2 separate regions of the Homo sapiens genome follow, and region 2 is linked to region 1. Evidence: fine-mapped expression QTL. A gene starts in region 1. The other region holds a variant in brackets. All regions are shown on one strand. Distances are between the middles of the regions. Region 1 holds the start of ADGRB2 (adhesion G protein-coupled receptor B2). Region 2 overlaps COL16A1 (collagen type XVI alpha 1 chain).

The links.
Region 2: its variant is fine-mapped to the expression of ADGRB2 in cerebellar hemisphere (GTEx, PIP above 0.99). The same link has a PIP of 0.9 or more in cerebellum.

What each region holds. Positions count from the first base shown.
Region 1 is chr1:31,761,583-31,766,942 of GRCh38, reverse strand. ADGRB2 (adhesion G protein-coupled receptor B2) reads left to right here and starts at 2,603. Exons shown (of 33, transcript NM_001364857.2): 1 at 2,603-3,059. RefSeq lists a silencer at 3,921-4,190 and an enhancer at 4,132-4,985.
Region 2 is chr1:31,670,340-31,675,699 of GRCh38, reverse strand. It overlaps COL16A1 (collagen type XVI alpha 1 chain), which reads left to right. Exons shown (of 71, transcript NM_001856.4): 43 at 389-442; 44 at 661-693; 45 at 2,860-2,976; 46 at 3,063-3,104; 47 at 3,198-3,284; 48 at 4,041-4,085; 49 at 5,054-5,098. LOC101929444 (a long non-coding RNA gene) reads right to left here. Exons shown (of 2, transcript XR_001737631.2): 1 at 5,348-5,360; 2 at 4,633-4,868. Among named protein-coding and RNA genes, the nearest start is that of PEF1, 28 kb to the right of the region's middle. The variant T/C (reference allele first, on the strand shown) is at 2,608.

The sequences.
Region 1 (5,360 bases):
GTTCAGAGGGATGTCCCTTTATTCTGCTCAAGCCCTCTGTGCTCAAGCTCTGGCCGGTGCCCCTTCCCATGCCCAGTCTCTGCCCCAGGCTCCCTGGAGGCCCCTCCTGGGGCTAAGGCTTGCTCTTTTCACCCCCGCCTGAGCATCAGAGAAGTAATTTATCTTCAACCAGCTGGATTTGAATATGGAAACGATTTGTAATTACTCCAAGTCCTCCTGGGCGGCATTATTACCAGAGTGAGTCTGGAAGGGCAGGGGCTCCTGGGAAAGGAGGTGGGGAAACCCTGATGCAGAGAGGTGCCTCCAGGGAGAGCCTTCCAGAGGTCAGCCCTAGTCTCGCCTGCTCACTCCTGTACAACCCTGGGGAGGTCCTGCTCTCCCCACACAGCTCCCACAACCCCCTTTGCCTTGCTGACCTCCCCACCTTGCCCCTACTGAGCCCCCGGCTAAGGGACACCATCTCTGTCAGTCCCTCACTCTGTCTACCTATGCTTCCTTGGGCGTACATTTTTGTGGCTGATAGAAGGGATCAAGAAGTCAGAGGGCTAGCGAGGAACAGAGAGACAGACAAAAACGCTGCTGTCGATCTGGGGCCAGTCCCTCCCATCACCTCTCACCCAGCTGCCTCCTGGGGAAGGAGGAGGGGGGGCCTCAGGCATCCAGCTGCATCACATCTGCAAGAGACCTGCCTAGGTTTCTCTGATCTAATATGCTAATGATCATGAATATTCAAAAAGAGGGAAGCAAGCTCCCTGTAGGAGAGGAGGGGGCTGGAGCTTTGGACAGGGTCCTGGAGATTTCTAAGGGGCTTGCATCCTTGTGGGCAACCCATGTCTCCACCATTTTCCCCACTTTTGCCTACCTCCTTGAAGCCCCAGTCTAGCAACCCCATTCCCCCTCCCAGTGCCCATGTAAGGAGGGGGCCCGGATTTCCCACTGCCCTGGGGTGGCTTTCAACATACTTTGCAGCTGGCAAGGCCTGCCTGGCCTGGCTTTCACATAGTAGCTGAGCCTTGAAATCCAGAGATGTCTGACTGTGTTTGAGGGTGCCTAGCAAACCCTAGGAGCCTTGCTTGCCAGTGCTAGGCCCAAGGCACAGGCCTCCTTGGGCATCCGCAGCGAAAGGGAAGGTGCCGGCCCAGCCCTCCTCCCTGCCTCATAAGGCCTCATAAATTCTCTTAAGGTGACAGGTGAGATTCCTTCATCGTCCCTTATTACCTCCTTCCATTAAAGTTGATAATCTCTCACAATCACTCACAACAAATGTCACCGAGGCTGCTGGAGGTGGGAGGGACAGAAGGAGGGAAAAGAGGGCGGTTCTATGCCTCTTCCTGGTACTGCCCCTGGGAAGAGGTAGGCTTTTCTCTTCTTGCCCCATCTTGAGGGTGCCACAACTTAAGGGGCATCAGTGGAGAGGTGGGGTTGGTATTTGCTGAAATGAGGACTTCTTTGCACTGAAAATTTGGCCCTTCCTGGCTAGTGAACCTTCAAAAAGTATGGTCCTGAAACCATCCCACCCTCATCGCAAAGCTGAAACCATCCCACCCTTATTGCAAAGCTGCCCCCTGCTGGTTTCTCCTCTGACCAAAGCCATGGGATTAACCTACTTGTGTTGGCTGCAATGGTGCGTCCCTGGTCGGCCTACCTTACTGATGGCAACATGCCCAGGCCACAAACTGCCTGACCAGAGCCCTGAACCATGGGCATCTCCCTGTGTACCGCCTGAACCATGAGGGCTCAGGCCCCACCCAACTGTTTCTGGGCTTAGTGCCAAGATGGGGAAGGGGTGGGTCTGTACATCTCTGCTGCTTCTACACAAACAGATGCAACATGGGGGCGCCCCTGGCACAGGGAAAGGCACTTGTGGGAATAGACAGGGACTCAGGAAAACATGTAACACACTGCACACGTGTAGCATCCCCGTGCCTAAGGACGTGCAACATTGCAGTTTACAGTATGCATCAAACATGTCACATTGCAGTATACATATGTGGCTGCTACATGAGTTACCCACAGTCCTCAGCACACATGTGGCACCTGTAAGCTTGCATACATATAACATCCCTGCGCACAGGAACAAGCAACATGCATTCAGGACTTGGGCACATGTTAATACACCGTGCATGTGTGTGGCACTTGCATGCACCTACCCAGGCAACATGGCAGTGCACACTTAGGGCACCTGTATGCATATGCAAAGTTCAGCGCACATGACTGGCACCTGCATGCACAGGGACATGCAATATGCAATGCACATGGGAAGGTGAGCAAATGCTTCAGCCTGCAGGGCCCGGGACACCCTGGCGGCGCGACAAGCCTCCGGCATGGGTATAGCTGGAGGGGCGTCGCGGATCGCCTCATTCTGCGGTCCAAGAAGCAGCGGGCTGGGCGGGGGCTTACCCAGGGCTTCTCCCGCGCCGGCGCCTGGGGCCCAAGGCGGGGAGGTGGGGGGCACGATCGGCTCGGCTGGCGCTGTTCCCCCTTTAACAGGAGGCGGCGCGCGTCGCCCCCGCCCCTTCTCCCGCGGCTCCTCGCGCCCGGCCCGGCGCGCGCCCCCTCCCGGGCCCGGCCCGCGCAGGCGCCGCGTCCCGCCTCGGCCGTCACTCGGCCCGGCGCGCGCTGCGGGCAGCGGCCGGAGCGGCCGGAGGAACCGGGTTCGGCGGCAGCGGCGGCGGCGCTCAGAGACCGAAGAGGATGCGGCACCGGCTCTCAGAGCCCGGGGCTGCGGCCGCCGCCCGCAAATAGGAGGCGGCGCGCGGCGCGGGCGGTGCTCGGGGCGGGGGAGCGGGGGAGCGGGGGGCGGCGCGGCAAGGAGGCGGCGGCGGCGGCGGCGGCAGGAGCCCGCGCCCGGCCCGGCGCCGCCCGCCCGCCCGCCCCGCGCTGCTCCGCGGCGCCTTTTCTGCACCCGCCGCCCGGGAGAGCGGGAGCCTCGGCCCTCCGCGCGGCTGCAGCTACCTACCCTGCGCCCGGCCCGGTCCCCGACTTAGGGATGGCAAACTTGCGCCCCGTGGCCGCCCCCGCCAGCGCCGGCCCCCGCTCCTGCTGCTGACGGCGCCCAGGTGAGTGCTCGGCCCCAGACCCCGACCTGGCCTCGCACCGAGCCCTGCCGGCGCGGTCCCGAGTTTCCGCACCGGCCCGGACTCGGGGCGCTCTCCTAACCCGTCTCTGCTGAATTCTCCCCCAGCCCGAACTGAGTTCGTTCAGCGTTCGCCCACCCCCATCTTCTGGGGAACTCCCAAACCTAGGGCCGAGGCCCCCTTAATCGCTGGTGAATCTCTAATCTCGGCCCCCCCCCTCCCCCAGCCTGGACCGACCCTCTTACCCATCTATGCTAAAGTCTCCCCCTCCAGAATTCTGACACAGACCGTGCTTGCTGTCTCGAGTCTTTCCCTATCTCGGCCTGGATCCGGGCAGTGTGCCCCCCACCTTTATTAGAGCCCCCCCATTAACCTGCAGCTCAACTGTGTCTCCCCCTCTATTTCCCGTCACGGTCTGAATGCCGGACCCTGCTCCTCTCCTCCACTTCATCACTGCCCGGAGTCTTTCCTGTCCCCATCCATGTCTGCCCATAGTTTCTACCCTCCCCCGCGCCTGTACCCCGACCATGCTTCTTCTCTATTTCTGCCCCTAGCGCCCCCTCCCCCATATCTATCTGACCGGAGTCCCGCCTTCCCTCGCCAATCTTGCTGCAAGTCCCCTCCCCTCAGCTTGGAATTGGGGCCGTGTCCCCCGTGTCTGCTCCGCGCCCCCTCCCCTCCAGCTGAGATCCCGACTGGACCCGCATCCCTGACTCCCGTGTCCATCTTTGGCCGGAGTCTATCTGTCCATCCCCCATCCCTATCCTCCCACCCCTGGTCATAGAGCTGGGCACCAGACGCACCCTCCCGCAGCCCCAGGGCCGGCATGATCCGGAGGGGGTTGTAGGCTGTGAAGTTGGCGGCCACTCCCGCAGTCAGCTTGGTCCGAGGGCACAGCCGGGGGAAGTCCTCCGCGCCGCGGCCCGTGCAGAGCAGGCGACGGGTCTGTTGCCCGCCGGGGGGAGGGGCGCCCGGGCCGAGAGATGCCGCCTGCCTGCCCGCCTCGCCAGCTGCCGGCCGGGCTCCTGGGCGTCCTCTGGCGCCCCCTGCCCGAAGCCTGGGACCCGCCACCCCTTCTCCCGCGGGCAACCCCGGGTTTCCGCAGCCAGAGCATCAGCGGTGGCTGCAGGACTGACGCTGGGAAATCCCTGGGGAGAGGAGATTGGTGGGCCAGGCCAGGTGCCTCCTCGTGCTAGCCATGCCCAAACACTCCTGGTTGTCAGGCCATATGTTCTGGGGGTGGGATGGGTTGGGGTGGGGTGGAGGGCTCACCCCAGCAGCAAGTCAAGAGTCCTTTGAGCCTTCACGTACAGACCAGCAGGATTGGCCGCGGGCTCCAGGACGCCTGGTTGGGCTTGTTTGTGCTTGGTCAGGTGTTGCCAGAGAGCCTCTACCCCATGGCATTTCCCATGAGGTGAGGGCTGGGGGCAAAGGTGGGCTCTGCCTGGCTTGCGCATGGAGTCGGTTGTGGGGGAATCCACCTGACCCTGGGACAGAGCAAGCACCTGGGGAGTATCCTCTGCACTGCTACTGGGGTGAGGGGCAGTGTGGACTCTGCGCAGGATATGTCCTGGTGATGGTAGTGGGGAGGTTAGGGAGGGTCTTCTCTGGACCAAGATTGAGAGAAGAGATCTTCCCCTCTTCTTCCCTCTCTCCTCCTTCCGCTCTCTCTTCTGCCCCCTTTCTGTATCACTCTTCAAAAGGACATGTCTAGTCTGGGGTGTGCGTGCGTGGTCTGCATTTCTGTAACACAAAGTGAGGTTCCATCTGGTATCTGCCCCCATCCCTCCCTCCCTTCCCACCCCCAAGTAATGAAGCTGAGTAAGTAGTTAGGAATTCAGCTTTCGGTCAGACGACCTACGTTCAAAAGCTGTGTGACATGGGCAAGCTACTTAATCTTTCTGAGCCTCAGTTGACCCTCTATAAAATGGGTCAGTGATCACTGCCTCATATAGCTGTTGGGAGAATGAAGTTAGGTTGTTTGTATAGAGTGTCTGGCACCTAGCAATGCTCAATATTGATAGGGGTGTGGGGCTGTTTCTGTTCAAGGCCAAGGTCAGGCCCCTCTCCACTCCACTCCTAATCCCAAAGGAGAAAAATGAAAAACAGGTTCCAGTGCCTTCACTCCAACCCCCAGTATAATAAAGACAGAAACACCTTTAGCCCCCAGTCTCCACTTTTCCCCCAAAGTATGGGTGCAGGGGGAGCCAGTGACTGTCAGTTTCCCTCATCTCCTCCTTGGTCCTGCAACTTCCCACTATATTTCTCTGGGATCAGCTCTGG
Region 2 (5,360 bases), 91 kb after region 1:
AGAGTGAGACCCCGTCTCTACAAAGAAAAAAAGAAAAAAGAAAAGGAAAGGAAAAAGAAAGAGAGAAAATATAGAAAAACGACTTAGCACAGAAATAAACAGTAGTTCCATGGAAGACCCTCTGCTCAATTTCTGACCTTCCCTCTGATGTGGGGGGAAAACACTTGCTGTTGGACGGTTTGGGGGGTCGCTCTTCTGGGCCTCCCTGGCTTTCCCTATAAGGGTCGAGAGGCTTTTGAGCTAAGAATAGATGTCAGCCTTGTGCCAGCCAGGGCTCTCAGCTCTGCAGGACAAGGGGAAGAGGAGGCGGGGATGATGAGAAGGAAACAGGCTGACCAGCAGGCTAGAGAGATGGAGCCCACTCACTCGTGTCTCTTCTTGGCTACAGGGAGTGCCTGGAAACAACGGTTTGCCAGGACAGCCTGGGCTCACTGCAGAACTGGTGGGTACTGGCCAGGACTCCCTGTGCATGCCCCTTCCCTGCCCTTCCCAGGGCTGCTCAGGCTATGAAGCTGGCCCGGTAGCTGCAGTGGGGGTCCCTCTTCTCTCCCACTTCTGAGGCTGGAAGGTGCATGACGTGTCCCAAGGCTCTCCCTGATCCCATAAGTCTCCATGTTCCTTCCCCTCACCTGCTTGAGCCCACACATCTGTCTCTTGCAGGGATCCTTACCAATTGAACAGCACCTCCTTAAGGTAAGAGGGTACCCAGGAGGGAAGTGTGAGCTGGCGGGGGTGTCTCCTAAGGGGATTCTCTTAGTAAGTGCTCAGCTGTGTGGCACCTCGCAGAGAGAGCAGCAGTTTGCAGGGAATACGCATTCCAAGCATCTGTCTAAGAGGGCCTAGCTGATGCCTGGCTTGTAACAGGCCCCCAGGCAACATTTGCTGAATGAGTGCTTAAAGGAATCCTGTGAAGGTGCCCACATGGCAGATGCTGTCGGCAGAACCCAGCCCTGAAGCCTGCCCGCAGCAGCTGGCAATGAGACCCCGTAGCACCCGGGTCACCCTGCGGCAGAGCCCAGCAGCTTCCAAAGCAAAGCAGAGGGGGTGAAAGTGCAGTGGTGGGGGGCTGTGAGATTGGGTGTGGCCTGGAAGAAAGCTTCAGCTGTTCTCTAGTCAATCCAGAAAGAATCCAGGGAGGAGATGGATTTGAGAAGCACTTCTGGTAGTCTAAGAAAGGGGACTTCGGACCTGGTCAGAGGGTCGGCCTGTGCCAGGGCCTGTACACAGCCTTAATGCTCTACCAGAGGGCTGTGGCCTGGGCCGGCTTCCCAAACTGAGCAGAAGTTCCTATTGGAATCAAGAGTCACATAGCCCATCTTTGCTTAGTCACCTCTAGAAACGAGAGCACAGTAATTCCCCAGGTTGCCTTCAGGTTTTTGAAGGAGGCCCTTATGTTCCTGGACTTTCTCTCCTCTAGCCCAGCATCCTCAGGGGTCTTTCCCATGTGTTGGCCTCCAGAGCCCCCCCTCATCCTGGCCACCCTCTTCTGACACTGGCTAATTAGTGCCCTGGACATCCCATGACCCCGATGGGCCTTGGTCAGGGCAGAGCATGGGGGCTGTCTACCCCTTCCCTGCTCTGAACGGCAGATTTCTCCAGAAGCAGCCAGAGGAGGTCGGGGTAACCTCTTGGCATCAGTTACATGTTGGATCACAGTGAGGTTGTGGCAACGAAACCCCCAGCTCTTCTCCCCTCTGCTTCTGTCAATGACTGGGCAGTGATCGTGTGACTCCAAATCCAGGATTTGACATTTCTCCTGTAACATTTCATCTGTTGGCTTCTTCATCAAGTGCTCTTCAGAGGATTCCAAATAGAAAGTGCGCATAGTGTGGAGAAGGGGTCAGATGGCACCCCGGGGCATGCTGACCCAGAGCCCCAGCCACCACCTGCACCCATAGTCCAGGAAGCCTGGGGAGAGAGCACTGGCTGTGGCCTAGGACAGGCCCACGCCAATCCAGGCTCCCACTTTCCTTAGACAAGTCACGCCGCCTCTCTTGAGTGGGCTTTCCCATCTCCACAATGCTTATAAGATTCCCTGTCTCACTGCGCCGTCAAGATGGCATGTGATAATGTGCAGGGCTTATTATGTACAATGCCCAGCGTCATGGGTGCTGAGTAAATGCCAGTCGTTATTACTGGGCTTGGTGGTGAGCAGTGAAAGTGAGCAGGGGCTCCTGCCTGGGCATCTGTGGACACGACACTGGCCACAAACAGGCTCCGGGCTCCTGAGTCCTCAGAAATTGCAGGCTGGTTTTCACTAGTGGGTTTGATTTTTCTGAGAAAAGGACCCATAGCTTCCATCAAACTCTCAGAGGGGTCTGTGACCCAAAGAAGGTTAAAGCCCTTCCTGTGGGGAAGACAATTCTGGTGGCGCGATCCGAGCCAGGAGCCTGTGAGCAATCTGAGATCTGTCCCAGGGGCTCCTGGGAAGGGCCTGGCTCCTCCCGCAGCTGTTCCTTTGCTCCCTTGGGCAGAGAAGCTGGCGTTCGGAGCCAGCCTTTCCAGCCTCACTCCTCGTGGCTTGTCCTCGCAGTGGGTGCAGGTTGCAGGAACAGCCGGGACAGATGGTCCCTCTGCGGGCCCCTCGCCTCCACCCACATGCCTGTC[T/C]GGAAAGTGGCTTTGGCTTAGCTGTACCAGAGCTTCTTCCTGGAGGAAACTCAAAGCCAATTGTTGGGAGTGGGTCCCCCGAGGATGGAGCAAAGCTGCCGCAGGGATGCGGCTGGGGAGGGAGGGAGTGTGGGAGGAGGGAAGACGGCAGGGCAGGGAGCCCTGGCTCTGGGTTCTCACTGGGGCTCCCCAGTTGGCCCATCCTGCCCATCTCTAACCCAGGCCCCACTCCTCTCCCCACTCCCTGATCAGAGTATCTGCGGGGACTGTGTCCAGGGGCAGAGGGCCCACCCAGGGTACCTCGTGGAGAAGGGAGAGAAGGGAGACCAGGGCATCCCTGGTGTGCCAGGCCTCGACAACTGCGCCCAGGTAAGGGACTGGGCTTGGGGCTGCCCTATGCAGGAGGGTTCCCTGGCTGCCTCATCAGACAATGTGCCTCTCATTGTCCCTTGCAGTGCTTTTTGTCACTGGAGCGCCCAAGAGCCGAGGAGGCCCGGGTGAGTGCCTCGCCTTATCTCCCCCGATCATGCCCCATGCCCCACAGGGACAGGCCCTGACTGCTCACTATCACCGTCTCCATCCTTCTCCAGGGTGACAACAGTGAGGGAGATCCTGGCTGTGTTGGGAGCCCAGGCCTACCTGGTCCTCCGGGATTGCCAGGCCAGAGAGGAGAAGAGGTAAGACCAGGGATGGGGATTCATCCTCAAGGGAGCTGGGGCCCTGTCTGCCTTTGAGACCTCTTGGGGGCCTCCGAGGCCTCACCTGACTGATGCCCTTTACCACTCTGGGCTCATCTGCTCTCCTGGCACGTGGCTTCTCTGGGATACACAGGACCCAGCGTAGGACACACTCTTTCTCCCCAGTGCCCAGCTGCATCCTCTGCCTGCAACGCTCTTCTCCAGGGCTTATTCCTGCACTCCTTCAGCTCGGCTCAAATGTCTCCTTCTCAGAGAGACCTCCCCTGACCACCCTCTTTAAAATTGAACTCCACACCAACCCCAGAGCCTCCAGTCCCCTTGGCCTGCATCATACTCATCACCATCCAACATCCTGCCTATTTACTTCATTCAGGAACATTCTACAGGTGTCAGCTCAACACCAACTATGTGCCAGCTCCTGTTCTATTTGTTAGTGTCCGTCTCTCCCCTAGAATGTAACTGCTTTGAGGCAGGGGTTTTTATTTATTTTGTTTATGCTGTGATCCTAGCCCCTGGACTAATGCCTGGTACGTAATAGTTGCTTGTTAAATGTTTGTAGGATGACCGAATGGGCCAAATGAAAGATTGTTCGAACATCAGCTAAGTGGTCCTGCTTGGACAGCAGCCACCCTCTGTTGACCTTGGCCCTGGCAAGCTGGGAGGAAGGCTGCTGGAATCCCAGGGGCTCTATGGGGCCTGGGCCTCTTCATCCATTTCCCTTGGCTTCCTTTGCAGGGTCCGCCTGGCATGAGGGGCTCCCCGGGTCCTCCAGGCCCTATCGTAAGTATCAGTGGTGCCCTGGTCTGCTTGAGAAGCTCTCAAAGGGGTCATTACACTCAGACACCATCCCGCGGCCTTGTCCCCAAAAGGCTGGGCAAGGCAGGAGGAGGGAACTTCCACTGCCCTCCCCATCCCTCCGCAGAGCATCTGCAGGGACTGTGCTCTCCCACCACCGGATGCCCTGGAACCGCCCTGCTCTGCCTACTGCCTGCGGTCCTGCTTAGGGGAGGTCCTCAGAGGCACCTCTTTGCTTCCCTGTCCCCACCCTCTGCTGCGCTTTCCACAGTGGCCCCAGGCCGCCCTCGGCAGGGGGCCTAGGCTTCAGGCTCACAGCCTCCCAACCAGGGAAGCATGCGGCATGCTGGCCAGACCTCTCCATGCCCCTGTGACTCCAGTCCCCACAAGGGCTCGGGGCTAAGATGGAGCTGTCCTCCATTGCTCTGTAGGGCCATCTCTAGGGTAAATCTACAAAAACCAGACCAGGGTATCTACTCTGGAGTCCTCTGTGATGTTGACATGGCAGGAAAATAGAAGTGACTAGGAAAGATTGAAAGAACTGAAAATGCTTTCTCTGGAGAAGAAAATGGCTGGTGGGAGCTGTCTTAGAGCCAGGGAGCCCCCCACTCGGGGGACAGGTGGAGGTCGGGTGGCAGGCATGGTGGGCAAGGCTGAAAGAAATGGGCTTCTGCTGCAACCGGATCTTCAGTTAGACTCCGGAAGACTCAGGAAGCCCTCTGACTCTGGAGCCATTCCGCATCTCCGTCAACGGAGGAGCCATTCTTCCTGGAGCCAAGGGGAGGAACAGTTGTCTTTTGAGCCAAGACTTTCAAGGAGTCTCTTTTCCAGCTGCCTTGAAAATACTCCCATGACCTCCTCTCCCCATGACCCCCAAGCCCCAGACTGTGCCCTCCAGGCTGTCCCAGGGTTACTGTGCCTGTGAGATGTGACCTGCCTGTTTCTCCCACCAGGGCCCCCCAGGTTTTCCTGGTGCTGTTGGCTCCCCCGGATTGCCTGTAAGAACCTAGCGCTGCTCGACCTCCCCTCCCCCCCGTCAGCCAGGTCTCTGTGGCTTTTGCTTGTCTCCCTCCTGTCGTGCCTTCACCTCCGTCCTCCGTGTTTGTTGTCCCCCTTCAGGCACGGTAGCTAACGACACGGGTTCTCTGAGGTCCCGGCAGCTTGGACATCCTCCCAGTCTCTGACTCCTTTCCGTTTTCTCCTCTCCCTCCTCTCCTGCGTTCTTTCTCTCCTCTTCTCTCTCTTACCCCGTTCTGTCTT